6 separate regions of the Homo sapiens genome follow, and regions 2, 3, 4, 5 and 6 are each reported to be linked to region 1. Evidence: microRNA targets listed by miRTarBase, many of them from high-throughput screens and not tested one by one. Region 1 holds a microRNA gene; each other region holds the end of a gene's coding sequence.

Region 1 (5,348 bases):
CGGTAAGTAGTTTTTTTTTTCCAGTTCTTTCAATATATCATCCCATTCTCTTCGGCATGCAAGGTTTCTGATGAGAAAGCCACTGATAGTCTTATGGTGATTCCCTATATGTGATGCATTACTTTTCTCTTGCAGCTTTAAAATTCTTTCAGTGTCCTTTATTTTAGACAATTTGATTAAAATGTACCTTGGTATAGTCTTGAATTGATCCTCTTTGAAAACCTGTAAGCTTCATGAATCTGGATATCCATTTCCCTCTCAAAATTTGAGAAGTTTTCAGCCATTACTTCTTTATTTTATTTTATTATCATTATTATTATTATAATTTTTTGAGAAGTAGTCTTGCTCTGTCACCCAGGCTGGAGTACAGTGGCACAATCTCAGTTCATTGCAACGTCTGCCTCCCAAGTTCAAGTCATTCTCCTGCCTCAGCCTCCCGAGTAGCTGGAATTACAGGCACCTGCCACCACACCTGGCTAATTTTTGTAGTTTAAGTAGAGACAAGGTTTCACCATGTTGGCCAAGCTGGTCTTTAACTCCTGACCTCAGGTGATCCACCTGCCTCGACCTCCCAAAGTGCTGGGATTACAGGCATGAGCCACTGCACCTAACCCATTATTTCTTTAAAAAAGCTTTTTACCTCTTTCTCTTGCTTTTCTTCTTCTAGTACTCTCATTATGCACATATTGGTTTGCTTGATGGTGTCCCATAAGTCCTATAAATTTTCTTCACTCTTTTTCATTCTTTTTTCTCCTCTGACTGGATAATTTCAAATAACCTGTCTTCAAGGGCACAAATTCTTTCTTCTGCTCAATAAAGTCTATTTTTGAAGTTCTCTATTGTGTTTTTAATATCAGTCATTAGGTTTTTTGGTTCCAGAATTTCTTTCTTTTTCTTTTTTTTTTTTTTTTCTTTTTTTGAGTTGGAGTCTCATTCTGTCACCCAGGCTGGAGTGCAGTGGCATGACCTCAGCTCACTGCAACCTCTGCCTCCCAGGTTCAAGTGATTCTCCTGTCTCAGTCTCCTGAGTAGCTGGGATTACAGGTGCACACCACCATGCCCAGCTAATTTTTTGTATTTTAGTAGATATGGGGTTTCACTGTGTTGCCCAGGCTGGTCTCAAACTCCTGAGCTCAGGCAATCCGCCTACCTTGGCCTCCCAAAGTGCTAGGATTACAGGTGTGAGCCACCACTCCCAGCCTGGTTCTTTTTTATAAGTTCTACCTTCCTGTTGAACTTCTTGTATTGTTCATGTATTCTTTCTCTGTTTTCAGATGAAATCAGACATGTTCGAGGTGGTATGGCCGTAGACTCTTTTTCTGTTTTCACTGAGTTGTCCAACTGTGTTCTCCTATTGCATGCTGAACTTCTTTAAAAACAATTATTTCTAATTGTTTGGAAGGCAATTTATAGATATCCATTTCTTTGGGGTTGGTTATTGGAAAATTATTGTGTTCCTTTGGTGGTGTCCTGTTTCTTTGATTTCGTGTGTGCGTATTTCTTGTAGCCTTGGGCTGTTTCTTTGCATATTTCATGGAGGAGTAACTTCTAGAGCATATGAACTGGCTTCATGGAGGAAGACTGTCACCTACAGGTTGGTGCAAGTGATGGCAGCAGTGGCCTGTCTGGAGTAGCCACTGTGAAGATGCCGGCTTCAGCAGGGGAAGCACAACTGGGGCTGCACACTCTGCTGAGCCCACGGGTGCCGGGAACAGGTGGGAGCCCCACCCCCTAACAAGTCAGTGGAGCAGGAGCCACATGCTCCCAGGCACAGCTGCAGCTTCTCAGCTGTAGCCACAGACCCAGGCATCCCTGAGGTCTCAGGGGCCCCGGAAGCCCTTTGTTCCCGTAGGCTTGAAAGTGCCTGCTCCCACTGCCTGGCCTCTCCCTGCTCCTGGCCCCCACTCTGGGGCAGAGCAAAGTTGTGGCAGAGCCCAGGCACTGTTGTGACCCAGCTGGGTACCCAAGCACTCAGGGCAGTGCTGACATGCCAGCCCCCTGCTGTCTCAGGCCATCCAGACTTTGGGAACTGAAGAGCACAAGAGGGAGACCAAGGGGTTGCTCAGGGTGGCTCAGTGTGGGCCTGTAGGCAAACCTCAGCATGAACAGCCTGGGCGGCATGGACAACATGTTGATGGTGACAGGAGGCAGACAGGCTCCTGGGCAGAAAGGGGCAGGTTCCCAGTGAAACGCAACCTTCAAGCCATGGATGGCATGAAGCCTGGGGGCTGGGCTGTCAGCTCCAGGTGGAGTCTGCGGCCTGGAGTGAGAACTTATGGTGCTTTTTCCAGGCCCGCCCATGGCCACCCATGGGCCAATCAGAACACACTTCTTCCTTTCTGAGCCCATAAAAACTATGTTACCTAGCTAGACTCATACAGATGTCAGGACTACCAGCTGCAGGAAGGAGCTACCCACTTCAGGTCTCCTCTACTTGTCAGTATGACCTGCCTGTGGAAAAGAGCTACTCACTCTGGGTCTCCTTTCTGCTGAGAGTTGAACACTTGTTGGGACAACCTGTCTGTGGAAAGGAGCTACCTACTCTGGGTTTCCTCTCCCCTGAGAGCTGGACACTCATCTGGACAACCTGCCTGCAGCTAGGAGCTACCTTCTCTGGGTCTCTTCTCTGCTGAGGGCTGCACTCGTCAGGACTACCTGCCTGCAGAAAGGAGCTATCCACTCCAGGTGTCCTTTCTTCTGAGAGCTGGACACTTGTTGGGATGACCTGCCTGCAGGTAGGAGCTGCCCACTCTGGTCTCCTCTCTGCTGAGGGATGCACTCGTCAGGACTAACTGCCTATGGAAAGGAGCTACCCACTCCAGGTCTCCTCTCCCCAGAGAGCTGGACACTTGTCAGGATGACCTGCCTGTGAAATGGAGCTACCCAATCTGGGGCTCCTCTCTACTGAGGGCTGAACTAGTTGGGATGACCTGCCTGTGGAAAGGAGCTACCAACTCCAGGTCTCCCAAGAGCTGTTCTGTCACTCTTTTGCTCAAGAAAGTTCCTTTCTGCCTTGCTCACCCTCCAGTTTTCTGCATACCTCATTCTTCCTGGACACAGGACAAAAATTCAGGACCTGTTGAATGGTGGGACTGAAAGTGCTATAACACAAACAGAGCTAAAACACCTGCCTCCACCCCACTCGTCACACTGCAGGCAATGAGAAGGAGAGAAGAGCTGCAGCCCTTCAGGGAGCTCAGATGCACAGGCTCCCCCAGCCAGGGCTGTGACACCCTCTTTGGGGCTCTGTGGTTTCTAGTGTCTTGGAGCTTCCAAGTGCCACCATGTTCCCCTTGTCCAGATGTGAGTGCCCAGAGCAGAAGCCACTTATAGTGCATCTGATCCAGCCACAGGCTTGAACAGAGCCAGCACCTGTGGTGGCACCTGGAACTGCCCACCCCACCACAGCAGCCAATGCTTGGCTGTGTGCAGCAGCCAGACCCCATGCTTGCTTACTTGTGCACCCCTCTCCTCTCCATGCCTGGATCATTCTTTGAAGGTGTGGGAGCCAGGCCAGTAGCATGAGCTGAGTGCAGCCTGCCAGGCCGAGTGGGTGGAACAAGCCCAGCAGGCTTGAGCAAAACTCTGGCAAAGGCACCACTGGCCACAGAGGTTTCCAACTGGAAAAGTGACACCTGGAGGATGCCATGACACAAGGATTCTGACTGATGGGTATGCAGCCCTTGGTACAACACTGAATATAAATGGTAAGAGTGAACGTCCTTGTCTTATTCCTGATCTTAGGTGGTACTATGGTTTGAATATGATTTGTTTGGCCCTGCCAAGTCTCATGTTGAAATCTGATCCCCAGTGTTAAAGATGGGGCCTGGTAGGAGTGTTTGGGTTGTGGGGGTGGATCCTTCATGAATAGCTCTGTACCATTCTCACGAGAGTGAGTTCTTACTTTTAGTTCCCACAAGAACTGGTTGTTGAAAAAAGCCTGGTACCTCCTCTAGTCTCTCTCTTGCTTCCTCTCTCACCATATGATATGCATATACCAGCTCCTCTTCACTTTCTGCCATAAGTGGAATCAGCCTGGAGCCTTCACTAGAAGCAGATGCCAATGCCATGATTCTTGTGCAGCCTGCAGAACCGTGAGACAAATGAACCTCTTTTCTTCATGAATTACCCAGCCTCAGGTATGCCTTTATATTAATAGTAACACAGACTAAGATGGGATAATTTTTTCAAGCCTTTCACCACAAAGTGACATTAGCAGTGTGTTTTCATAGATGCCCTTTATCAGGCTGAGGAAGTTTCCTTCTATTCCAGGTTTCTTGTTTGTTTTTTTAATCATTAAAGTGTGTTGAATTTTCTCAAGTGCTTTTTCATATCTATGACATGACTGTTTGGCTTTTGTCCATTATTCTATTAATATGATATATGATAATGTATGCTGAGCCTGTATTCATGGAATAAATTCCACTTTGTCATGGTCCATAAATATTTTTATATGGAGCTGGAATCATTCTGATAGTCTATATTCATAACAATAGTTTATATTCATAAAGTTACTGGAAAGAATTTGGCTGTTAATCTTATCAAGAATACCTCAGAGATGATGAGCTGCTTCTGTCTTTCTGCTTTCAATATACTCTCTGTGCCCTTGGTTTTCCAGTTGGTTATGTTGTGTATAGGTGTGCATCTCTTTGCATTTATACTACAGTATAACCTTGAACAACATGAGGGGTTGGGGTGCCGACCCCACTAGTCAAACATCCACATATACATACCTGTGAGAAGAGGGTAGAAAAAAAATCCACATACAACTTTTGACTTCCCAAAAACTTAACTACCAATAGTCTACTATTGGCCAGAATGTTACTGACAACATAAACAGCTGATTAACACTTTTTTTAATGTTATAAGTATCATATACTGTATTTTTACCATTAAGCCAGCCAGAGAAAAGAAAATAATAAGGAAAATATATTTACTATTCATTAAGTGGGTAATCAGAAAGGAATTCATCCCCTCTGTTTTCACATTGAGTAGGCTAAAGAGGAGAAGGAAAAAGAGGGGTTGGTCTTGCCATCTCAGGGATGGCAGAGGTGAGTAAAAGTTCCATATAAGTGGACCTGAACAGCTCAAACCCATGTTGTTCAAGGGTCAACTATACTTGGAGTCTGTTGAGTTTCTTTGATGTATAGATTAATGTTTTTCATCAAACGCTGGCAGTTTTTGGCCATTATTTTGTCAAGCATATTTTTTGCTCCTTTTTCTCTCTTCCGAGACTACCATTATGCATAGATTGGCATGCTTGATGGTATCCTATAGATCTGCAAGGTTCTCTTCATCTTTGTTAATCTTTTTTTCTTTCTCTTTCTCAGACCAGATTTTCTCAATTG
Region 2 (5,348 bases), not on the chromosome of region 1:
CGCCCCCTGCCCGCCTCGCCTGCCCGGCCCTGCCCATCACCCGGCCCTGCCGCCGCCTCCAGCCCAGCCCGGCCGCCGGGTTTGCAACGCTCCAAGTCGGACTTGAGCGAGCGCTTTTCTAGGGCAGCCGCTGATCTCGAGCGCTTTTTTAACTTCTGCGGCCTGGACCCGGAGGAGGCGAGAGGGTTGGGTGTGGCCCACCTGGCACGGGCCAGCTCGGATATCGTGTCCCTGGCAGGGCCCAGTGCTGGGCCGGGCAGCTCTGAAGGGGGCTGCTCCCGCCGCAGCTCGGTGACTGTTGAGGAGCGGGCCCGGGAGCGCGTTCCCTATGGCGTGTCGGTGGTGGAGCGCAATGCCCGCGTGATCAAGTGGTTGTATGGGCTAAGGCAGGCTCGGGAGAGCCCAGCAGCTGAAGGCTAGGCGCCACTGGGCCTGGAATTCGCCACAGGACGGATCTTACAGAGGCAAGTGGTCCCTGGACCTCTCTTGCATCCATTCTCTAGACGGCCGTGTCAGAGGCTCCACCCTGTTGTGAACTTGGTATGGAGGCAAAGGCTTAGAGGCTGGACCAGCATTGTTGGGCAAGGACTGACTCTCCAAGGGTTTTGTTCTTGGCTTTGGACACCTGAGAACCCCCTCCTCCCCTCCCCCAATACAAGGTTTTTGACATGAGTGTACTCCTGCTTAGTTCCTCTTGTGGGGCTGCATTTGCGGTGCTTTGCCCTCCCCACTGTGAGTGAGGGGCCAAGGGATCTCCTCAATCCTGTCTCCCCAGCGGCTCTGTTTCCTCCTTCCTTCCTTGGCCTCTGTCCTTTGCTGACTTCCTCTTCCTTACCCAGCAGAACTCACCCTGGGGTCGGGGCAGTGGGGAGGGGCCTATCCACTGCTCTTCCTAGTCCTTGGCAGCTGGCCTAGGTGGGCAGACTATAGGAGGGACTGGTTAGGAGTCTGCATTGCTTTGACTTCCCTCTCCTTGGTTAATAAACACAAATGCTTGTTTCTCAAGGGCTGGGCCTTCAGACTCTTCTGTGTTCACAAGAGAAAGGGTGAGAGAAGTCTTGGGGTGGGGCCATCAAAACAGTAATTGTTCACCCCGAGGTCTAGTGGTGGGGCATGATGATAGCGGCTGGCCTGGCTGGAGACATGTCCCCGTGGTGGGTTCTCATAACTCTCCTGGAAGGCTAGCAGGCCTGCCTCATCGAGGAGGAAACTGAGATCCAGCCATGAGTGAGCTGGAATAGAGCTGGGAGTAGGAATGGGGTCTTTCCCCTGCACCAGAAAGGGAGCCTGCAGGGGAAAGGCCGATGGGGTGCATAGACTCTCCCCAACCAGGAGTGTTCCATCCAAGCCCTGCCCAGTTCCCAAGGGGGCAGGAAGCTCGGAGAGGGCAAATCCTGAACTTGAGGTCACACAGACCATAGAGTGAGGATGAGAAGTGGGAGTTTTGGAGGAAGAGAGACTTGGGGTGGACGGCACAAAATGAGTGGCCTCCCTGGCGATCTTGGACAAGCCAGTTTCCCTCTGGGCCTCAGTGGGAGAGTTAGGCAGCACAGTCCTCCTTGGGTTGGGGCACTGGTGCATTCTGGGCCCTTCATGCTATATTCCAATACCTGGGGAGAGGGGAAGGAAGGGGCTGGCACTGGGCTTCGAGGCCTCAGCTTCTTCCAGTCTCCCTCCAGGTCAGTTACCTACTAGGACACCCCACCTTGGCTAGTGGAGCAGCTAGGGCTAGAGCTGGGCCTACAAAGGGCGAAAGCGGGGGTGGCCTCTCTGGTGCCCCACGGTGGGCGTGGAGAGGGGGTGGGTGGCGCTTCCTTTCACAGGCTGCCTTGGCTGCAGCACTCAGAAACAGGAAGCTCTAATGGGGGCCCTGGTGACAGGTTTGATGTAGGTTTTATTTTAAGCATAAAGAGGAGATTTCCGTTGGACTGTTGACAAACATCCACATCAGCCCAGCTGTCCATCTCTCTGTCTGTCTGCCTGTCTACAACTAGCCCCCAGGGGCCTGGGATGGGCCTGGGCAGTTTGGGGAAGGAAGGGAAAATTGGGTTCTAGAAGAAGATGGTGTTCCAGCTCATGAGACTGGAGCTCATGATACTGGTGGGGAGACAAGCATGAGGAGGGTGGTGACCTACCCACAACCCCCCATGGTGCCCAGCAGTTTTGACAATGCAGGAGCTGGGCCTCCAGGGTCCCCATGCTGAAGGAGTGATGGTGTCAGGAGAGAGAATCCAGGCAGGATCTGCAGACGTGGTGCCCTTTGAGGTGTCAAAGACTAGATTTCCTAGGCAACCCTGCTAGAATTCAGGGCTAGTCATTGCCCCTTGCTGTGACCTGGCAGCCTCCGAGTAACCCAAGAAGGTGGATGGGCTGGCTGCATTTTACATGTGAAGAAATTGAGGTTCAGGTCACAGGACTGGTGGGTGACACCTTGTTTCTGAAGGAGGGTACAGTGCTTGAATCCTCAAGGTAGCCTTTTGAGGACCAGATATATTGTCAGAGCAGGAGGTTGAGCTCAGGGAAGGATAGCGACTTGTATACTGTCACATAGCAGGTCTGCAGGACAGCCTGGGGTCACACTCTTGCCTGCCAGACACATCGCAGTCTGGATTCCTGGTTCTCCCAGCATGTACCCCACCACTCTTCCTCATCTTGGCAGCCTTTTCTTCTGGTCACTTTATTACTGAGCATCTACTGGGTGCCCAGCAGTGGATAAGACAGACATGGCCCCTGTCCTAGTCTGGAGAAGAGAATGGGCAACTAAACATTCAGCACATAAATAATCATAGAATGTAAAGCAGGTATACTTAGGGACTTCTGCCCTAAAACCAGAGCTGTTCCCAGGAGCTGGACCAGGGGATAGCTGAAAAGAGAACGCCTTTCCATAAATCCACTGGGAGGGTCTGTTGGGGAGAGAGCAGGGAGGGATTCTTGGAAGTGGGGAAGGTGCCAGATTGAGTCTTCTCCAATGGTTATGGCTTGGTCTTGGGAGGGCTCCCCCTGTTCCAGGATTCTGGAGCCTCCCGCCTTCCCTGCAGGCCTCTGTGGAGGGAGCAGGGCGGGGGGCTTTTGCACTCCTCCCTCCCCCAACCCTGCAGCCTTGGGGATCTGTGGAAACAGCCCCTCTATTGTTCTGCCTCCAGTTGGAGTGTGAGCCCTCGGAGGGCCTGCAGCTGCTGCCCTGTCTCCTGGGGCTGCCCAGCCCTCCGAAGCAGCTCCCCCAGGCCAGCCTGGCCCCAGCTGCCTAGCCCCTAATTAGGCAGAGATGGGATCTGCTCTCTGATCCATTTCCCACCAGCTAATTATATACACGTGGATTTGGGAACCAGGCAACCTGGCTGCTCACTTCTATCATGAAGGTGGATGGGCCCTGGGAAAGGCAGCCCCCCCCCCACAGACCTCAGTTTACCCTTTTGGCAGAGGATGGAGTGTAGCTGCAGAGGCCTGTTCCCTGTCCTTGGTTAAATAGTTCTGTTCCTGCTACTGAAACATTTAAGGAGACCCCCCACCCCCATCTTACCTGATATCCTGTGTACAGGGGACCAGGAAAGGGTTGAGGAATTTGGCTATAGGTCCTTGACTCTAGGACCCCAGGGTAGGGTCATAGGATATAGATGAGAGCATGGCTGCAGCTGGCTGCCAATTAGATGTGCATATAGGAGGGCTTACAGTTGTGCTGGTCCATCTGGGTGGCCTGAACACCCGGCCGGGTGCGGTGGCTCACGTCTGTAATCCCAGCACTTTGGGAGGCCAAGGCAGGCGGATCACTTGAAACCAGGAGTTTGAGACCAGCCTGGACAACGTGGTGAAATCCCGTCTCTACTAAAAATACAAAAATTAGCTAGGCATAGTGGCGGACACCTATAATCCCAGCTACTTGGGAGGCTGAGGCATGAGATTCGCTTGAACCCTGGAGGTGGAGGTTGCAGTGAGCCAATATCATAGCACTGCCCTCCAGCCTGGGTGACAAAGAAAGACTCCCTCTCAAAAAAAAAAAAAAAGGAGTGAACACCCCATCCAGGTTTTTAAAAAGGTAATATTGGTTGATGGGTACAGCAAACCACCGTGGCACATACATATCTATGTAACAAACCTGCACATTCTGCACATGTATCTCAGAACTTAAAGTAGAATAAAAATAAAATAAAAGGTAATATTATTTTTCAGATAATTCACTCATATATTTCTTCCAACATTTTATTAAGAAAAATTTCAAACATAGAGTTGAAAGAATTAGACAGTGAACATTCATATACCCACCTACTAATGCACACTTGTTAATATTTCACTATATTTGCTCTATCAGGAATCTACCCATCTCTCCATCCATTAATACAACTTATTTTTTTAATACAACTTATTTTTTAATAAAGCTTTTCAAATTAAGTTGCATATATCAGTACACTTCCCTTAAAGTCACTTTAGTGTGCATGCCATTAGCTAGAATTCAATATTTGTTTGTCTTGTTCCTCTCTAGGTAACATTTACATGGAATGAAATGCACAGATCTTAAAGGTGCCATTTGCTGAATTTAGACAAATGCATACTGTACCCCAAACCCCTATCAGGGTATCAAGCATTATCACCTCAGAAAGTTTCCTTGCATCGCTCTCCTGCCGATTGCTGCCTGCCCACCATGGACATATTTTTATATCCATATATATCAGTACTAACAAGCAGCATCCCTTGTCCTTTCCTCTACATCAGCCTCGCTCCCCAAAAGCAACCACTTACAACTTCTTAAACTATTTCTTCTGGTACTTTCCTCCATATTTTTAAATAACTTGCTTTTCCTGCTGTTTTCTTGATCAATTTTAGGCATACACACACACACACACACACACACACACACACACACACACATATATATTTATTTTTTTTTTGAGACAGAATCTTGCTCTGTTGCCCCGGCTGGAGTGCAGTGGTGTGATCTTGGCTCACTGTAACCCCTGCCTCCCAGGTTCAAGCGATTCTCCTGCCTCAGCCACCTAAGTAGCTGGGACTACAGGTGTGTGCCACCACGCCTGGCTAATTTTTGTATTTTTTGTAGAGATGGGGTTTCACCATGTTGACCAGGCTGGTCTTGAATTCCTGACCTCAAGTGATCCACCCACCTTGGCTTCCCACAGTGCTGGGATTACAGGCGTGAGCCAGTGTGTCTGACCAATTTTAGGCACATATTGACTGACTTTCTGGTCTGATGTTTTCATAGTGTGGCCTCCACTGCCTGGCTGCCTGGCTTTGGATCCCAGCCCTTCCTCTTTCTGGCTGTATGACCTTGGGCAGTAACTTAACCTCCTTGGGCCTCAGTTTTCTCATTTGTAAAATGAGGGTGATAATAATAGTGC
Region 3 (5,348 bases), not on the chromosome of region 1:
CCTGAGGCTGAGGCTGAGGCAGAGAATCTTCCAGATGATAAACCCCAGCAGCCGACTCGACCCCAGGAGCAGAGTACAGGAGACACCATGGGGAGAGACCCTGGTGTGTCCTTCAAGGTAAATGAGAGATGGAACAGGTGGGCATGGGCTGGCAGGTGGAGACAGAAGCTGGGAGATTGGCCTTACCCACTGTCTATACTGTATTTCTCCAAGGCTGTTGGTCTACAACCTGCTGGAGATGTAAATTTGCCATGACTTCCTGGAGGACAGCAGCATGGAGAAAGATCCTAGAAAAGGTCAGACCCAACTCAGGCCTTGGTGTCCCTGGACTGCAAGTGTGGAAGGAGGGAAAGCCTGGTTTACCTCTCTCTGCATCTGAGCTCTGCTACCCATGGAGCAGATGGATGGTGGGAACAGGAAAGAGCTTATGTTACACCTCATTCCCATGCTTAGCCCACCCAGAGCTAACCCCTGTCTTCTTCCCCAGGCCTCTGACTTCCCTCACCTCCCAACCATCATTACAGGAAAGACTGTGAACTCCTGAGTTCAGCTTGATTTCTGACTACATCCCAGCAAGCTCTGGCATCTGTGGATTAAAATCCCTGGATCTCTCTCAGTTGTGTATTTGTTCATCTTCATATGCTGGCAGGAACAACTATTAATACAGATACTCAGAAGCCAATAACATGACAGGAGCTGGGACTGGTTTGAACACAGGGTGTGCAGATGGGGAGGGGGTACTGGCCTTGGGCCTCCTATGATGCAGACATGGTGAATTTAATTCAAGGAGGAGGAGAATGTTTTAGGCAGGTGGTTATATGTGGGAAGATAATTTTATTCATGGATCCAAATGTTTGTTGAGTCCTTTCTTTGTGCTAAGGTTCTTGCGGTGAACCAGAATTATAACAGTGAGCTCATCTGACTGTTTTAGGATGTACAGCCTAGTGTTAACATTCTTGGTATCTTTTTGTGCCTTATCTAAAACATTTCTCGATCACTGGTTTCAGATGTTCATTTATTATATTCTTTTCAAAGATTCAGAGATTGGCTTTTGTCATCCACTATTGTATGTTTTGTTTCATTGACCTCTAGTGATACCTTGATCTTTCCCACTTTCTGTTTTCGGATTGGAGAAGATGTACCTTTTTTGTCAACTCTTACTTTTATCAGATGATCAACTCACGTATTTGGATCTTTATTTGTTTTCTCAAATAAATATTTAAGGTTATACATTTCTTCTGACTTCCTTTATTTTCACAATCATTCAATTCATAGCATTTCCTATATTCTGTTATAATTATTTCATTGATTCATAAATTTCTTTGAAAAATAATTTGGTCTTCTATTGATTGTGAGAAGATAATCTAAGTTTAATTTGGTCAGAGAATATCATCTGTTTAATAAACTTTGAAATTTGGTGAGTGAATTATCTTTTTTACTGATAAAGAGTGATGTCATCTTTTTTAATGTTTCACATAGGTTTGGAAAGAATGCATTTTAGATTGTGTGTAGTATTTTCTATTAGATTATGTTTGCAATTTTTGTTTCAATTTATATCTTATATACTTAATTTTTTGTTGTCTGTCACCTGAGAGGTGTGTTCAAATCTCCAACTATGATAGTGGATTTGTGCATTTGTCTTTATAGTTCCATTTTCTTACATACTTTGCAGTTACTTTATTAAGGTATATGTAAATTTACATTTATATTTTTCTTCTGAACTGAACTCTTTGTGTGGTAGCCTGCTTCATCTATAGGCTAATGTGTTTAACCTTGAAAACTACTAGTTTTAATATTAATATAACTGTCAATTCTTTTGGTTACCCTTTGCTTGACATCCTTTCTCTTGAATTTCCATTCTTTTTTAGTTTCAACCTTTCTTTATATTTACCACTTGTATACAGCATTTAAAGGGTTATTTATAAAAAAAAAAAAAACTCTTGTCACATTTGTCTTTATGATTTTCTAGTTGTGTCAATTTTTTATTTGCTTTCTCTTGGCTTTTTATTTATCCCTTTCATGCCTTTTATTTTTTATTGTTTCTTCATGCTTTTTGTTGTTTGTTTGTTTAGAAGGTCTAATTTAGACCGGCTAGTTTAGCTTTCATAGTTAGCAATGTCTCAAGTTATTTAAAGAATTAAAGACTCTTCATCCTTTTCTTAATAAATGAAGCCTAAACAGCTGTAACCATTGATAGATCATCCCACTCTAAACTATTAAGGTATTTTTGTCCAGTTTATTACTTCTAGCCTGTTTGTGTTCTCATAAATTAATTTTTTAAATTATTTTATACAGTCAATGCTTTATTACTAATTTATTTACTATTTTTGCCCACATTATTTTTACATTTCAGAGCTTTCATGTGGAATACTTTTTCCATCTGAAATAAATGTCTCAGAATTTCCCTTAGAGTTTGCAGACTGTATAATGTTTTAAATTTTACTATGAAAATATTTTTATTTCATCCTTATTCTTGAGAAATGTTTTTATTATGTAGAGAATGCTTGGTAGGCAGTTTGACTTAACACATTGAAGATTAACTCAACTGATTCTCTGGTCATCTGGTTTTGATCCTTGATGATGAGAAGTCAACTGTCAGTTTAAAAGCCCTTCCTATGCATTTTTTTACCCAGTTAGTGCTTTTAACACCTGTATTTAGTGCTCTATAGTTTTACTATATTGTGAATAGTTTGGGACTCTGGTTTACTTATTTATTCATTCATTCTGCTTGCAAATAGTTGAGCTTTCTAAATTGCCACTCTTTCAACAATTCTGGAATATTTTCAGTTTATCTGTTTAAAAAACACCTCTTTTGTATTAGCTTATTCTAAAATGCCAATTAGACATCAATCAAATTTTCTAACTTTTTTCTTCATGTCATGCAAACTTTCTTTTGTAGTTACCATTGCTCTTTCTGAGATTGCATTCTAGATGCTTTTTCTATTTTAACTTTATATAGCCAAGCTATTGTTTTTTCATCAGTTTCTTAATTTTTGATCTTTGATTTTCATTTCAATAAGTTGTATTAGATCTCAATTTACTACTGCTTTTGAATATTTTCTTCTGGCTTACATTTTGAGCTTTTTAAATTTTTTTTTTTAATTCTTGATGTATTTGACTACATAGTAGGTATACATACGAGCTTATTTTTTATTATCTTAATATATGGACACTTCATTATCTTTTTTGGAAAGGTTCATAATATATAACTTTATTGGCCTATCTCTCATACTCCCTGTTTAATATAGTTCATGTAGTTTTACTTTGAGCTGCCTATTTTTCCTAAATTTTACCGTTACGGCCTGATACAAAATTGAGAGAATTTGTGTTAACTTCTGTCAATAGCTTGTGGGCATTACCTGTATAACTCTTAGAAATGTTAAAATGAGTGTTTTTAATGTTTTTTATATTTGTGTGCTATCCCATTTTTCATTCCTGTTGTTTATTTTCTTTCTTATTAGTATTTCCCAAAGGCCTTTTTTCTACTTTATATGTCTTTCAAAAACACAGGTATTGGCATTATTTTCTTTAATGTTGCTTTTAATACATTCTTTTAATTATTTTTTGTCTTTATTCCCTTCTGCTCTAATTTTTAATATTTGTAGGATTTTTAAAAATTAATATTTGATAATACATATGTTCTTTTTTATAGTCCAACAAACGCATTTACATATTTACATTTTTATTTGACCACCACTCTGAGAATAATTCATATATTTTAATACATAGGCTATTGATTATTTCTAAATAGATTATAATTTTAGTATTGATTTTATTTTAAATCAAGGAGGTTTCCTTTGTTGCCCTTGCCTCTCAAATGTATTTGTAATAGTGTTTAGTTCCTCAATGGATTTAAGATAATTTTGTTATTTTTAATGCACCAAATTTTGTAATCTTACTGTTACTTCTTTTATTCCATTTGCTTCAAATGGTATCACACCTCTGAATATTGTTCCTTAAAATTTATTAGTTACATATAGGCTTATGTATATGTGTAGTCATTATATATGTTCTTATAGGGAAGAGATTTTATCATTTTTGTTCATCACTAAACCCACAAGTTCAAGAAAAATACTGATAGAGGGTAGATCCACAAACATTGGTGGAAATGTAAATGGTTGCCAAAAATGAAAAAGGAACACAATGCATACAGGAGGTATTCCAAATTTTTAAGTGTGTCTTGGAAGTTTGTATGAGATTTCACAGAGGTAACACCCCAAAAAAATTTTACTTCTATATTATGACTTCTTTTGCATCTACTTTTTCCAAAATGTTATTTTTTTCTAACAGAGTTCTAAACATTGAAAATCATTTAACACATTGCATTCAGTATTTCTGATCATTTTTATCTAACCAGTTGCTAGGATCAGTTTCTAAAAAACAGCATGAGAGAGAAAACTTGTTCAAAGTACCCTCCTAAAATTATTAAGGTCTTCTAAATTTATGTGACTTATTCTATCAGGTAAATATTCTTATTATCCCAGATAGTGTTGGCAAAGCTAATACTGCACATTCTGTCTGTACAGTTTCGAAATTTATAAAACTAAGGTTTCATTTCTAATACTCTCCCCTGCCATAACAAGATGGGCATTTTCCGCTGCTCTTTAACTCTTATAGTGCTAAACTTGTACTTTTTGCAGCAGTGGTGATCAGTGAGGGTTTTGAATATCTCTAAAAATAAATGGCTTTCTTCCCTGTGCTACCAGTACATCATACAATACTAGGCGTATATATTTTATTGAAGTATTGTTTTTATGAGCTTGTTTTTCCAAAAGGGAATAAAATATCTACAAAGCGTTAGTGATAACATCTGAGAAGTTTCTGCTAACTCTGAAAATGCCGTAACTATTTACACACAATGTTAATTTTCTCCTATTTTAGAGCCTGAGGTTAATACACCTCATTCTTGTCTTACAGAATTTCTATAACTTGAATGTTTATGTCTCTTCTTTGAGCCTCTTTCTCTCTTTTATGTATAAGTTCTGAGATATGAATAGAATGTGAAATTAAATAATTTTATTTCATTATGATTCCCAGTCCAGTTTTTCAATGACCCTTTTTATAGATAGAACATTGGGCTCTGAGGAACTTCCTGTTTGGGTTTGTAATTCATTAATTAACAAACATGCCCCACTGATAAAATTTGCTCTTGAAACCCTGACTATCCTAGATTGTTTTGAGGCCAATTTAAAACTGTCATAAATTCGTTATGTCCTCAAATTTATAACTTAACAAAATTATGAAAAAGCAAAAAACCTTAATCTTCATAGACCTCTGTAATATACAGAGACTGGATTTTGGATGCCATGTTTGTATGCATTTCTAAATTTTAAATTGTCAGACGGACT
Region 4 (5,348 bases), not on the chromosome of region 1:
GGTGAAACCCCGTCTCTACTAAAAATACAAAAATTGGGTGTGGTGGCAGGTGCCTGTAATCCCAGTTACTAGGGAGGCTGAGGCAGGAGAATTGGTTGAAGCCGGTGGGTGGAGGTTGCAGTGAGCCAAGATCACACCACTGTACTCCAGCCTGGGTGACAGAGTGAGACTCTATCTCAAAAAAAAAAAAGAACTAAAGGCTCAACACAAATAAATGATAAATGTTCAATGTGATGGATATGCTAATTGTTCTGATCTGATCATTATATATGTATCAAAACATCATTATTTACCCTGTAAATACGTACAATTATATGTCAATTAAAAACTTTAAAAAGGCTGGGTGCAGTGGCTCACGCCTGTAATCCCAGCACTTTGGGAGGCTGAGGTGGGCAGATTATGAGGTCAGGAGATTGAGACCATCCTGGCTAACACAGTAAAACCCCATCTCTACTAAAAATACAATAAACTAGCCGGGCATGGTGGCACGCGCCTGTAGTCCCAGCTACTCAGGAGGCTGAGGCAGAAGAATTGCCTGAACCCGGGAGATGGAGGTTGCAGTGAGCCAAGATCGTGCCACTGCACTCCAGCCTGGGTGACAGAGCGAGACTCCATCTCAAAAAAAAAAAAAACAAAAAAACCCCACAAAAAACCTTTAAAAAAAAAAAAAGCTAATATAAAGCCTTTACCTTAAAACTCTGAATTTATCTTATTCACTTTTTACCCTTAGAAGTTTATGAACTTGCAAAGGCAGTTGAAAACTATGGTAAGTCTTCAAGTCCCAGCTTTATTAAATGTAAGAGACCAGCAAACTTTAACCTAAATTTTAAGAATTTTAAGAAATATTTGGAAAATACTATTAGAAAAATAAAATTATTTGATATCCAGTAACAGTTAATAGCATTCTCTGTATTAAAAAATTACTAAAGGGAAATGGGTATGTCTGCGGCATGGCTGAGAATGAGTAAGATCACACACAGCTTATCTGCTCAACAAATCCTGAATATATCAGACAGCCCATAACATTGCTATGAGAAGTCTGATTCAAATGCTTAGCTGCTATAGTTAGTTAATCTGGGACTCAAAGGACAATATACCTGGGTCAGGGACTGAAAATCACCAGAAGAATTCTACAACAGCCTTTCTGCCTACCAATAACACCTATAGAACTTGACTGGAATCTAACCAGAAGTGTGTTTCATGTCCAAGTATGCTGCTATACATACAAGCTACCTAGGCTTTTAGCTAGAAAAGTTTAGACCATAGAAAATGATACAGGAGGTGCGGTGGCTCACGTCTGTAATCGCAGCACTTAGGGAGGCCGAGGCGGGCAGATCATGAGGTCAGGAGTTCGAGACCAGCCTGGCCAACACAGTGAAACCTCGTCTCTATTTAAAATACAAAAAAATAGCCGGGTGTGGTGGCAGGCGCCTGTATTCCTAGCTATTCGGGAGGCTGAGGCAGGAGAATCGCTTGAACCTGGGAGATGGAGGTTGCAGGGAGCTGAGGTCTCGCTATTGCACACCAGCCCCGGTGACAGTGTGAGACTCCGTCTCAAAAAAAAAAAAAAAAAGAAAAGAAAAGAAAATGATACAAGAAGAAAAGGAAATTCCTTATTCCTGGATTACAAATGAACAAAGGAAACACAATCCAAGGAAAGGGCTGTTGGGGGCACAGAGCCTGGGAAGTGAGCAGCCAGAGCTGTGGAGTTATTTCCCTCCCCTTTTTTTAAAAAGCTCTGGATTGAGAAATTGGAGGGAGGTGGGAAGGTGGGTATGGGGGATGGAGACTCCAGCTGTGCAGCCTCCATTCTGAGAGCTGCTTAGATAAGGTGCGCAAAGCCAGGCATTCCTAGGCTAGCACTGTCAGGATATGATTTGTATCACTTTTGTTTTCACATTATCTGTCTCTTGAGGAAGTCACTGCCTGTCTGCTTTTCACTCTGTACCCTGGGTTTCCCTGATAAGATAGGCAAACTTCCAGCATTACAGAGATTGTTAATCCCCTAGCTTGTGCTTCCCTAATACAAATTGTTTTTTTAAGAAACCCTCAAATTTGTGTTCTAACAATTGGCATGTTTTATACATCTTGACCTCATATCCAGGTTTAAAGGAGGTGAACACACTGGTTCTTAAAGCTTCCCTCTATCACAGACGCTCCTAAATAAGCTATCTGTGGTAATCTAGCCCTGTTCATCTTGCAAACTGAGTTGCTGTATAATTGTATCCAATGTTTGTGTTTAAAAAAATATGACTCTTACACCGGGCGCAGTGGCTCATGCCTGTAATCCTAGCACTTTGGGAGGCTGAGGTGGGCGGATTGCCGGAGCTCAGGAGTTTGAGACCGGCCTGGGCAACAGGGTGAAACCCTGTCTCTACTAAAATACAAAAAATTAGCTGGGCATGGCAGCGTGCACCTGTAGTCCCAGTTACTTGGGAGGCTGAGGCAGGAGAATTGCCTGAACCCAGGTGGTGGAGGTTGTAGTGAGCTGAGATTACGCCACTGCACTCCATCCAGCCCAGGCGACAGAGCGAGACTCTGTCTCCAAAAAAAAAAAAAAAAAAGAAGTATGACTCTTTACCACTGCACTCCCAGTGCTAGTATCAAAGAAAGATAAGAATCATAGGATATTTACGGGTACTTGGTAGATTCCATATTTTGTTTCTATTAGCACTAGAGGAAATCACAGAATGATAACAGGGGTACTTCTCTGAAAACTGGGCGCTACTACTGTGACTCTGACAGGGTACGTAAGTAGAGGATCTGCTCCTGCGCAGCACAACAGCTAAAAGGGTAACCTGTGAGGGTCAGTGCATTAAGAATCTATAGAGGGAGCAGGGATATCTGCGAAAGAAATCTTTCTTTTTTTTTTCTTTTTTTTTTTTTTTTTTGAGACGGAGTCTCGCTCTGTCACCCAGGCTGGAGTGCAGTGGCGCGATCTTGGCTCACTGCAAGCTCTGCCTTCTGGGTTCACGCCATTCTCCTGCCTCAGCCTCCTGAGTAGCTGGGACTACAGGCATCCGCCACCACGCCCAGCTAATTTTTTTTGTATTTTTAGTAAAGACGGGGTTTCACCGTGTTAGCCAGGAGGTCTCAATCTCCTGACCTCGTGATCCGCCCACCTCGGCCTCCCAAAGTGCTGGGATTACAGGCTTGAGCCACCACGCCCGGCCAGAAATCATTTTTTTCTTTTCTTTTTATTAATTTTTGAAGTCATCATTAAGAAATCAACTTTAAATTGAAGAGAAAAGATGGCAGGATGTCAGGATTTTATTTATTTATTTGTTTTTTTGAGGCAGAGTCTTGCTCAGTCACCCAGGCTGGAGTGCAGTCGCATGAGCTCAGCTCACTGCAACCTCCACCTCCCAGGTTCAAGCAATTCTCATGCCTCAGCCTCCCAAGTAGCCAGGATTACAGGCATGTATCATCACACCCAGCTCATTTTTGTATTTTTAGTAGAGACAGTGTTTCACCACGTTGGCCAGGCTGGTCTTGACCTCCTGGTCTCAAGAGATCCACCTGCCTGGACCTCCCAAAGTGCTGGGATTACAGGCGGAACCGCTGTGCCCAGCCCTGATGTCTGGATCTTTAGTATATACATATATAATTTTCTTTCTCTTCCATTTCCATCTTTATCAAGAATCTAAACACTTTCCAGGTCCCAGGCAACCAAATGGCAAGAAAAGCTCAGAAGTGTTTTGTTTGGTAGGTAGCTAGTGTTGCTGGAACCTGGACTGTGGCTGACTAGTAAGACTGCAGGACACCAGTGCCCCTGAGGGCTCATATGGCTCCAGTAGATATGCAGGATCTAGAATAGGTAGGGAGGAGTTACAGAAGGTATGTATTGGCCGCCCACAATCACCGAAAGATGAATTTTTGCATAGGCAGAGACCTTGGTAATTAGCTAAAAATACAGGCATCACACAAACTTCTTATGATATTGGGTTGATCTCAGCAAAAGTATAGAAAGGGAAGGACTTGAAAGAAGAAGTGAATTTTCTATATGTTTAAATGTGTTAACTGGAATGCATGGACATGTGTAACCAAGACCTTTATGTTTAAAAATTAAACTTGCTCTGATCATTAATTCTATAGAATTAATGTTACCAAAGCTGCAGTAACATACTATTCAAAAATTCATTTTCCCAGACTTCTAACTACTTAAAACAAAAAACCCCCCACACACAATTACATACATTCACACAGCTGCTATGCTCCCAAATGGAATGCATATATTAATGCACACACAGAGACACTCAGAAAGCACACGTGCAGGGCTGCCAGAAGACACCCATTTTGAACCTGAGGTGCATGTGGGCCGCAGTGAAGGTCAAGAAGCCTGGCTGCATATCTGTTCAATGTCATTCATCTCTTTGGGACAGTCTGCAGAAAGGATGAGAGGTGAGTCCTGAGTCACCACTACATCATCCTCAATTCGTACACCAAGACCCCGAAACTTCTCTGGGGCATCTTTGTCATCCTCTGGAATATAAATGCCTGTGAAGTAGAAAGAAGAACATGCTGTTCAGGAATGATAGTAACTGGGTGGTTTGGGGCAAGTAAGTTAACCTCTGGGTTAAAATTCCTTCCTCTGTAATACTGGATCTTTATGGTACCTACCTAGTAAAGCTGTGAGGATTAAATGAGATAATACATGTCAAAGTGGCTGGCATATAATGGTCAACACATGTTGGTATCATTACTAAAATTATTATTGTGGTTATCTTTATATTGGACTACAAGCTAAATACAACTACGGCAATGCTGATCATGATTCTGTCATATTCTAGTGGCTCAAGCAGGCCAATAAAGTTACTTAATTTAAAAGTACGTCAATATATGTGGGGGACAAGCAGATTATGTAAGTGCATTCTTCCCCTGCCTAAGAGTCCCTTGGAAAAAGAGCACCTTGCAAAAATAAAGACAAAATATATTTAAACTGTATTCAAAGAAACATTTAGAGATTATTAGCCTTGACAACTGGAAGCTGCAGAGACAGTCATTATAAGATTTAAATATATCTGATGTGTGTAATATAAAATACAAGAGAAACTGAAAGACTTTAATGTACATTTGGAAAAATGTAGGAACCCCAGGTACCCTTTCTAATCATGAAGTTAGACACATACCAGGGCTTTTTATATTAAACAAGTTGTAAACTTCCTCCACTATCCTCACAGATACTGCTCTGCGATTGAAAAAGAAAGATCAGCAAAGGAAAATGTAGCGCAGTCTAAGGAAGCGCCCATGTACCAAACAGATTGAACTAAATGATATATCTATGGCCACAGATAGCAATGTATGACTAGGTTCAAAGGGTGGCATAAAAGACATTTCACAGCCATAAT
Region 5 (4,268 bases), not on the chromosome of region 1:
CGGAAGAGGGACCAGAAGCGCATCGCAGCTCAAAAACAGGTGCTGGCAGGGCTCCTCATTGGGGACAGATAGGTGGTCATGTGGGGAGCCAGCAGGCCCGGGCTTTCACCAAGTTCTCCTTGGCCCAAATGGTCCCATCCTCCCCTGCTTGGCCCAGGTCAGTCGACGGGCATTCTGCTTGGGCACCGTGCCCTGCTCTGGTGGCTGCTGTGGGCACCCTGGGCACTGTGGGTCAGCCCAGACCTCAGGGTCCATGCAGGCTGGCAGGGTGGGGTGGCGGAGGCGTAGCTGAAGGTGCCAGAATCCCAGCCACACCCGGGATGCAGGGATCCCACCCTCAAACAGCCCCTTCTCTAGGAGGCTTATGCATCCAACTGGAGATCCCGGCTCGCCTGCTTCCTAGTGGGGCACAGCCCTGGGCAAGAGGCTTCACTGCTTTGAGCTCTGGGTTCTTCCTCTCCAGTGGGGACCACAGGACCTCTGATGGCGAGGTTGTGTGGGGTCAGTGGGTAGCTGGCACCCATGCAGCCCTGAGTCCGTGCTCTTTCCTCTCTTCCTCCCCAGGAGCAGTTCAAGGTGGACAGGGAGGGAGGCCTGAACACTGTGAAGTACCATGTGGCTTCCCGCACTGCCCTGTCTGTGGGCGGGGCCCCCTGCACTGTCCTCAACATCATGTTGGACTGTGACAAGACCGCCACACCCTGGTGCACATTCAGCTGAGCTGGATGGACAGTGAGGAAGCCTGTACCTACAGGCCATATTGCTCAGGCTCAGGACAAGGCCTCAGGTCGTGGGCCCAGCTCTGACAGGATGTGGAGTGGCCAGGACCAAGACAGCAAGCTACGCAATTGCAGCCACCCGGCCGCCAAGGCAGGCTTGGGCTGGGCCAGGACACGTGGGGTGCCTGGGACGCTGCTTGCCATGCACAGTGATCAGAGAGAGGCTGGGGTGTGTCCTGTCCGGGACCCCCCCTGCCTTCCTGCTCACCCTACTCTGACCTCCTTCACGTGCCCAGGCCTGTGGGTAGTGGGGAGGGCTGAACAGGACAACCTCTCATCACCCCCACTTTTGTTCCTTCCTGCTGGGCTGCCTCGTGCAGAGACACAGTGTAGGGGCCATGCAGCTGGCGTAGGTGGCAGTTGGGCCTGGTGAGGGTTAGGACTTCAGAAACCAGAGCACAAGCCCCACAGAGGGGGAACAGCCAGCACCGCTCTAGCTGGTTGTTGCCATGCCGGAATGTGGGCCTAGTGTTGCCAGATCTTCTGATTTTTCGAAAGAAACTAGAATGCTGGATTCTTAAGTGATATCTTCTGATTTTTTAAATGATAGCACCTAAATGAAACTTTCAAAAAGTATGGCAGGCCAGACAAAATGTGTCGTGGACCGCTCACATGTCACTTTTGGCTGAGGGGCAAGGGGACGGGTGAGTTACAAGCTGGCAAGGAATTGGGGTGGGGCGGGGACGACAAGTCCAGGGGGGAGGAGAAGCCAAAGGTGTGAGGGTTCCTGTACTACCTCCACCCCACCAAGGCTTCTGGGCAGCCCCCGAATGCCCTTCTGAGCAGTCTTACCACCTTCAGGCTCTCTCTGGGTAAGCTTCCTCCGGCCTCACTGAGACACGGAGGAGGGAGAGTGGCTGAGGAGATTCACCCACAGGACTGGAGAGAGGCAGGCAGGGCACTCAGCCGGTGCCTCGGGTCATGGCTTGAGTGGGGAGGAGAAGGGGAGAAGTGGGAGGATCCCTGTGGTGTTCCCTCAGCACAGAGGGATTACAGTGGTCACTGAATGCCCAGGAGCAGTGAGAAGACATGAACTGGGGAGTGCTCTTGGGGGAATCACTTGGAGGGAAGCCCAGAGCCCATGAGAGTGGGAGGCAAGGGACCCTGCATGTAGGCCACTCCAAGGCATTTGGCTGCCAAAGATGCAAGGCAGAAGGCAGAGGAGACCATCAGGCCCCAGTAATGTGGGTTTGTTTTAACACCAGGACACCTGGAGTCCTGAAGGAAGGGATTCCTGAGCACCATCCCAGAGCTCAGGAAGGTGGAATCCACAGCTCTGGTTCAAAAGACTTCTCTGAGGATGATCAGGGCTGCTGTGTGCAGTTGTGTGGGTTGCGCACTGTGTAACCTGTGTATAAGCCGAGGGATTTAAGCAGAAAGGGCTGGGGTAAAGCTTCAGGTTCAGGTGTTTAGTCCAGGGTCTTTGTGATCCTAAATTGACCTTCCCCATCGATTCAGCCACACCCACTATTGTGATGGGCAGACAGGCCTCGACTCTAGTGCAGGGGTGGTGGAGAGGGGACTGTGCCAGTTCCCTGGACAATCCCAGCTGCTTCATCTTGGACTGACATGGACACCAGGCAGTAACACCAGCTCTTGGGAGTTGGTGGGAACAGGTGTAATATCAAAGCTCCCAGCTCTGCACTCTCCTGTCACATAGGAAGACCTCAGAAAATGGAGGTTCCTTCCTTTCCACCTGCACTGGGGGAGTGCAATGAGCAGAAGAAAAGCGAAGGTCCCTCCACCTTCTGAGATCAGCTGACACCTGAGCTTAGGTGCATCCCTAGCCCTGCAGCCTGTTGCTTCCCTTGACCGCCACCCCCACCTCCATCTTCAAGGCTGTGCTGGGCACTCCAGGCTGGGCCTGACGCGTTCCAAATCTGCAGCTCCCCTCACTCTGCATCCTGGGCCTCCACCACTCTCCAGGAGAGTGGGAGACGCCTGAGCCATGGGTGGCGAGAAGCGGCAGTCCTGTGCCGCCTCAGTGCCCCACTTGCCTCCTTCGTGGAATGGACTTGACATCCCTGCCTTGCTGGCCAGGGCGTGGCCGAAACCTACCCAGGATGTAGGAGCACCTGGCACAGCGCTTGGCCAGTGAGGCGGTGGTTGCAATAATAATAACCATCCCTTGTTGAACATTCACCAGATAACCAAATTCTCCACACCGCATTTCACTTAGGCCTCCCTACCTAAGAGCTGGGTCCTAATTCACTGGTTCTGTACATCAGGAAGGCAAAGCACAGACAGGCAAGTAGCTTGCCCAAGGTCGCAGAGCTGTAAGGGATGGGGGGCTGGGATTGGGAACCCCTGGAATCCACTTTCAGAGCCAGGTTTCTTCCCCTTTGCCCTGTACAGCAGGTGCCCATGAGCAGGTGTTCCTTCCCTACAGGCCTCCCTCCTCTCCCCTGCTGGAAAGGGCAGATGGGGAGGGCTGAGAGGAAAACAGGGGCATGGTGGAGATGCAGAGGATCTGCCTCAGGCTCCGCTGCCTCGAGGAAGACAGGGATTCTGCTGCTGGGTGCTGAGGAGCGCCGATGGGGCATTAGTGGGACCCAGAGTGTGGCACTGTAAATGAGAGCTGTGTGGAGTGCTTGGGGAAGGCTTCCCCGAGGAGGCAAAGTCTTGCTGGTGGAGAATTTGTCAGCAGGAAAGGGAAGGGATCATCATGTGCAAAGGCAGGCAGCCTGGAGCCAGCATGTGTGTCAGGTACCCAGGAGCAGCTGGAGTGTTCCTGGCACCCACGATACTGTGCAGAAGTGGGGAGGTGGGCAGCAGAGGGAAGGCTGGGGTGAGTCATGAGGATCTGTGAATGCCACACTAAGCAACTTGTACTTTATTCTAGGGGTGCAGGGGCTTTGAGAAGTTTCAAGCATGGGAGAACTTTTTTTGTTGTTCTTTTTGAGACAGGGCCTCTCTCACTCTGTGGCCAAGGCTCGAGTGCAGTGACGCGATCTCGGCTCACTGCAACCTCTGCCTCCCGGGTTCAAGATTCTCCTGCCTCAGCTTCCGGAGTAGCTGGGATTACAGGCATGTGGGACCACGCCTGGCTAATTTTTTGTATTTTCTTAGTAGAGAGATGGTTTCACTATGTTTGCAATCTGCCCGCCTCAGCCTCCCAGAGTGCTGGAATTATGTGTGTGAGCCCGGCCAGGGGAGAACTTTTGAACACTTACCTGTGTTCTATGACACAGATCCTTTGGGGGATAACAAAGATCCTTTGGGGGACCCAGGGTGGACTGCAGGGTGGAGTCTGAGGAAGGAGAGCACCCAGTCCAAGGGAGAGATGGTGAAGCCAGAATGAGGCAGGTGAGTGGGCGTGGGGATGCTAAACCCCCAGAGCCAGTAGGAGCCCTCCCTAGCAGGATCAATCAGACGCCATCAGGCCTTCCCTTCACGGAGGGTCGACTCCACTGCAGACTGTTTCCCAAAAGGCCAAATGGACGGACACATGGCCTTTTTGCTATCTCAGCCCTCATGCCTTGAGAACAT
Region 6 (5,348 bases), not on the chromosome of region 1:
AGGCGGTATTCCAGACAAGAGTACACAATTTTCACTTTTTGTTTTTAAGCAAGGTTTTAATTAAGCTGCATGGCATCCAGAAGAGAGAAATGTACCAAAGAATCCAACCTGAGACCAGATTATACATTTTAGAGGGGGGAAAAAATCAATGCTATTTGGGAGAGGGAGCACTGTAATCAGAATATAACTCCAAAATAAATCATACAATAAATTATTTTCTAAAAGAAATTGATCCACATGCAGACAGATGAACACACACACGCACACGCGTGCGCACGCACACGTGTCATTCTAGTCATTTATTCAGTGTTGACTGTGACTTCCATGGAGGGCACCATGAGAAAGGAAAAGATTAGACATGTGAAAAGAAGGCTAGGCCCCATCTTGCCACCAGTGGAATGAGATTTAAGACCACTAGAGAAGGAACCCACTAAATTGCCAGAAACAAGAGTAGAAAGAAACAGCAGTTATCAAGGAAGATTTTAATTGCTTCAAAGAGGGAAAGGAAGAAAGCACAGAAATCTAATGCAAGTAAAGGCACAATGAATGTGGAGTTGAATGGAACCAAACCCTTCCTTCGGTTAAAGTTATCCTTTTTTTTTTTTTTTTTTTTTTTGCGTGTGGTTTTGATGGTGGTTGTAGTTTTGTTTCGTTTTGTTTTTAAGAGATGAGTCTTGAAGGCAGAGTTGTAATGGCCCTCCTCTCTCCCCTCCCATTCCCGAAATTAGGGTAGCTTAACAGAAAGCCACCTTGACCACATGGCCAGGGACTGAGATTCAATGGGGAAAGAAAGACTGTAGCTGGAATGTGAAGAATTTGATTTGCAGTTGATTGCAGGTTGGGTTTCCGGAAGGGCAGACAGCTCAATGTAGTGCCATCATAGGGCCTCAGATGCCCACACTCCACCCCCAGAGCTTCACAAAATGGAAGGACCCTGGAGTCACCCTTCTCCCCCACCCCCATAAGCACTCAGCCTACAGATTATTTCAAGTGATCAGGAGAATTAAAACACACCCCAACCCTGAGTTGCTCTTTAGCAAGTCTATTTACAATTTTTTTCTCACCTCTCCCTGGAGGTAAATCTGGGTTTCAAGTTGGGAAGCCATGGGGTGAGGGAGTTCCCCAGTGCAATGGCCGATGACGAGTATCCTTGCCACTGCCAGTTAACAGGGCTGGGATGAGCTCCTGTAGACAGCAGCCTCACATCCATCAGCTAGGGTAGCCCTAGGTTCTCACTCTGTTGGCCTACGCTGTGAAAATGATGGGGCTCTGCAGTGGAGCAAATCCCCATGACAGAGAAAATCACACCTGGAATATCAAAGTGCTTTGGTCCAGGTTCAGTGACCAGAGAAGAGGAAGAGGGGCATCTAGCTCATTTAAAAACCTGGAGGTTTGCCCTGCTTCCCAGACAGGGCAGTAAGAAACAACTATAACGTTTTTCCCATTAGGGAAAAACATCACAAAACCAAACCCATAGAAGGGCTTTTAACACAGCTTCCTGATGCTTAGCTGGGCAATGTCTCTTCCTTCTGTGGGGGGACAAGGGAGTTAATGGGACTGGGCAACAGCCTCAACATGAGACCACCCAATCTTCCACGAAAGAGACGACATTCCCACAAGCAGATAAAAAGAGCAGTTTAAAAGGTGAGGAGTTTTAGTGCTCTTGTAGCCAGCCCACCTTAAACCTAAATTAGAAGCTTTTTACAACATACAAAATAGACTGATAACTATGCAGATCACATTCCCATCTTCAATAGTAAATATACATAGTAATAAATCTATTATTAACAGTGGGACCAAATAACATATAAGGCAGACATTTAAACAGGTGTTGTATCATCAACATGCTCTAAAAAAAACTCATCTGACTAGATCTAGACCCAGGCCTTTTTGCATGAGGCCAAGACAACAAGTATACAATCAATACCCATGTGACACAGTCCAAGTGCTGGGGAATATGAGGGGGCAGTGGGCCATGGGGAGGAAGATATCAGCCCCAGTGAAAAGCTGGGGTTTGGCTTTACTCGTGATATTTTGATGCTCTATGTCTGAGTAAAGGAGGAAAAAAAAAAAAACACTTTGATAACGTACAAAAGGCATCGACTCCCATTTCAAAAATAAATGGGAAGACTTCACAGTCAAAGTTCAGTCACTTGTCAGTATCTGCCCTGGAACTCTGATGCAGTATCAACTCTTGTACTCTCTCCTTTTCCCTCCACTAGCATGCCCTCTCTCAGTTGTTTGGTTTGTTTGTTTTCTGAGATGGAGTTTCACTCTGTCACCCGGGCTGGAGCGCAGTGGCGCCATCTCCACTCACTGCAACCTCCACCTCCTGGATTCAAGCGATTCTCCTGCCTCAGCCTCCCCAGTAGCTGGGACTACAGGCACATGCCACCACGCCCAGATAATTTTTGTGTTTTTAGTGGAGACGGGGTTTCACCATGTTGGACAGGCTGGTCTCGAACTTCTGACCTCAGGTGATCCGCCCGCCTCGGCCTCCCAAATTGCTGAGATTACAGGCATAAGCCACAGCGCCCGGCAGTTCTGTTTGCTTCAGGATGCTAGGGATACTTCTGGGAGATAACTGCTAACAGATTAGAAAGAAGAATGATACATAAAAAATGATTAGGAAAAGTTTGGTGACAGACCTAATCATGGTCTGTCCCAGAGTTAATATGGTCCAGGGGATGGCAAAGGACAGCAGACCCCATACACATTACCCCCGTTGAGCCCTCCCTCACCTAGCACTGGGGAGACTTGGGTTTCACCTGGCACCATGCACAGATCCCTAGCCTGTGATCCAATCAACTGGAAAGGTCTCTAAGACAGTTTAAGCCTGTGATGTGTGTGATTAAATTTTTTTTTTTTTTTTTTTTTTGAGACGGAGTCTGGCTCTGTCGCCCAGGCTGGAGTGCAGTGGCGCAATCTCGTGATTAAATTTTTAAGCTAATTTTCCCCATCCATTTCAAAGAGTAGCCATGGTCTCCTTGCTCTCATGCCACGCTCTGAGCACCCTCTACACATAGCAACAGTTGTAGAAAACCAAAGCATCTGGTGTGTGGAGCCCAAGAGCCCCATCCTGCTGTCGGAAAAAAAGAAGTCCTCATCCAATCAGCTTCCTACCTAGACTGGGGACCTCCATTTTCTCTGTGCTCTTTAGGACCCGGAAGACAAAGAAACAACCTATGGCTGGCTGCCAAGGAAGATCTACTGAACTGAGGCAAATCTCAACAAAGTCTTTGTGCTTCCTGGCATAGAAGAGTATCTGAATATCTTCATAAGCCTCTGCTCACTTCTTCACCCTTCTGTACTCTGCTGTGTTAAACCGTGCAGTCCTGGGAAGGCAAGGGTGGTAGAGAAAGGAACAGGAAGAGTCTGCTCAGTCAGGTGGGCTGTGAACTTCAGTACAGGCAGGACTTAAAAGTCCTTTGCAGCCCCACAAAGCCAGCTCCTTCCATGAGGGGCTTCAACCTGCCCTTCTTTGTTATCCTGGAGCACCTTCCAGGGGCTGAAGGACAGAAAGAGCCACTGACAACTTCAGGGCCAGTCAGAAAAGACTGAGGCAGACACAAGATTGAGGTTAAGGCCCAGGCCCACGCCCTATCTTCCTATCTCCCACCAGAGGTTTTTGGGGTTTGTGAATCAGGAATGAATGATGCCCTCCACAAAAAGTGACTTTTCTTTCAAGGGCATGGGCGGTAAGGGGGAGGAAAAACATCCCTCAGCCTAGCACCCTGAAGCAGTGGGGTGAGGGGTCCCAGAGGGTTCAAATGGCTCCTGTTCCCTTTGCTGCAGAGAACTGACTAGTTCTAAAATGGTCTTCAGTTTATTTCACCCTTTCTTTTTATTAAATGTTAAGTTCAACTGATTAGTATTTAGTGTTTATATCCAATTTATCCCTGGGGTGGTGGGGTGGGGGGGCAGCAGGTGAGAACAAAAACAAAATACCCCCAAAAATAAAGCAGACCCAATTCCTTGCCCTTTCTCCAAATATGACCTTTAAAACAGATCACTTCTTGGCAAACTCCTTTCTTGCTTCACTAAAAATGCTCCCCTCCCACCCATAAGTCCTGGTCATGCCAGCCTCCTAAATGATGAAATATAATATACCTGCCAAGCTTCCCCCACAGTGGACAGGAGAAGGAAGGAGTACCATTCTCCACCCTGCCCTAACAGTGAGTTAATTCATCACAACAAGGCACCTTTCCCCAAGAGGAAGGCAGAAGACACGGAAACTTGTTCCTCATGTGGCTAGCAGGGCTTGCTGGAGGAAGGATGGATGCAGGGTTTGAGATCCTACTGTCAATATAGAGTCTGATCACCAAATCCAGAGATGAGATGCATAGATGGAGGTGAGCTGGGAGGACATTTGGAGTCTAGGGCTTGATTGCATTGGAGAAACATGTTAGGAGCTCTCATGCAGGTTTCAGGGGAATGGAAGGGACCATCTGAGAAGAAGAGAAGGTCCATCCTTTTCCTGAGGAACGGGACCAAGCCAGGCTTCACCTGAGAATGGGTGGCAGAGGTGGGGCTCCACGGGCAGCTGAAAAAAAACAAAATAAAGACCACACACATACAGGTCACCCACCAGAATCTGAACAACCCACACATTCCTAAAATGAGAGACAGGCTCTTTAAGCTAACCTTTAAAATCTGGGGACTACGTGTTATTATTGTTTTGCCTAAGAAAATGAAGATGAGTGGCCAGGCAAGGTGGCTCACGCCTGTAATCCCAGCACTTTGGGAGGCCGAGGCGGGCGGATCACCTGAGGTCAGGAGTTTCAGACCAGCCTGGCCAACCAGGCAAAACCCAGTCTCTACTAAAATTACAAAAATAATCCGGCATGGTGGCACACGCCTATAATCCTAGATACTTGGGAGGCTTAAGCAGGAGAATCACTTGAACCTGGGAGGCAGAGGTTTGGGGTGAGCCGAGATGGCACCACTGCACTCCAGCCTGGGTGACGATAGGGAGACCCTATCTCAAAAAAAAAAAAAAAAAAAGGACAACGAAGATGATGAGAAGCAATTTTTTTTCTTTTTTTTTGAGACGGAGTCTCCCTCTGTCACCCAGGCTGGAGTACAGTAGCGTGATCTTGGCTCACTGCAACCTCCGCCTCCTGGGTTTAAACAGTTCTCCTGCCTCAGCCTCCCGAGTAGCTGGGACTACAGGTGTGTGCCACCACGCCCAGCTAATCTTTTGTATTTTTAGTAGAGACGGGGTTTCACCGTGTTAGCTAGGATGGTCTTGATCTCCCGACCTCATGATCCGCCCACCTCAGCCTCCCAAAATGCTGGGATTATAGGCATAAGCCACCGCGCCCAGCCTAATTTTGTATTTTTAGTAG

Evidence for each region. Region 1 holds the annotated microRNA hsa-miR-4421 (ACCUGUCUGUGGAAAGGAGCUA, at 2,516-2,537, shown strand). A microRNA usually pairs through its seed, bases 2 to 8, with sites in the 3' UTR of a target mRNA and lowers its output. Matches are read on the target gene's strand: a 7mer-m8 pairs with bases 2 to 8, a 7mer-A1 pairs with bases 2 to 7 and ends in A, and an 8mer does both.
Region 2: miRTarBase lists FAM110A as a target of hsa-miR-4421. The part of its 3' UTR that is shown has no 7-base or 8-base seed match.
Region 3: miRTarBase lists ZWINT as a target of hsa-miR-4421. Seed matches in the 3' UTR shown: 7mer-A1 at 689-695.
Region 4: the mRNA of XPNPEP3 is a reported target of hsa-miR-4421. Seed matches in the 3' UTR shown: 7mer-m8 at 2,368-2,374 and 7mer-m8 at 1,926-1,932.
Region 5: miRTarBase lists B4GALT7 as a target of hsa-miR-4421. Seed matches in the 3' UTR shown: 7mer-A1 at 805-811.
Region 6: miRTarBase lists WIPF2 as a target of hsa-miR-4421. The part of its 3' UTR that is shown has no 7-base or 8-base seed match.

What each region holds. Positions count from the first base shown.
Region 1 is chr1:51,057,364-51,062,711 of GRCh38, forward strand. MIR4421 (microRNA 4421) reads left to right here and starts at 2,474; the gene lies at 2,474-2,542. MIR6500 (microRNA 6500) reads left to right here and starts at 2,655; the gene lies at 2,655-2,740.
Region 2 is chr20:845,273-850,620 of GRCh38, forward strand. It overlaps FAM110A (family with sequence similarity 110 member A), which reads left to right. Exons shown (of 2, transcript NM_001042353.3): 2 at 1-1,005. The coding sequence ends at 420. Among named protein-coding and RNA genes, the nearest start is that of FAM110A, 14 kb to the left of the region's middle. RefSeq lists enhancers at 1-43, 1,272-1,331.
Region 3 is chr10:56,353,325-56,358,672 of GRCh38, reverse strand. It overlaps ZWINT (ZW10 interacting kinetochore protein), which reads left to right. Exons shown (of 9, transcript NM_007057.4): 7 at 1-117; 8 at 214-296; 9 at 488-1,446. The coding sequence ends at 255. Among named protein-coding and RNA genes, the nearest start is that of ZWINT, 5.3 kb to the left of the region's middle.
Region 4 is chr22:40,925,418-40,930,765 of GRCh38, reverse strand. It overlaps XPNPEP3 (X-prolyl aminopeptidase 3), which reads right to left. Exons shown (of 10, transcript NM_022098.4): 10 at 1-4,497. The coding sequence ends at 4,331. Among named protein-coding and RNA genes, the nearest start is that of RBX1, 23 kb to the left of the region's middle.
Region 5 is chr5:177,608,976-177,613,243 of GRCh38, forward strand. It overlaps B4GALT7 (beta-1,4-galactosyltransferase 7), which reads left to right. Exons shown (of 6, transcript NM_007255.3): 5 at 1-39; 6 at 565-1,355. The coding sequence ends at 720. Among named protein-coding and RNA genes, the nearest start is that of B4GALT7, 11 kb to the left of the region's middle.
Region 6 is chr17:40,277,380-40,282,727 of GRCh38, reverse strand. It overlaps WIPF2 (WAS/WASL interacting protein family member 2), which reads right to left. Exons shown (of 8, transcript NM_133264.5): 8 at 1-4,543. The coding sequence ends at 4,503. Among named protein-coding and RNA genes, the nearest start is that of CDC6, 7.8 kb to the left of the region's middle. RefSeq lists enhancers at 1-745, 746-1,682.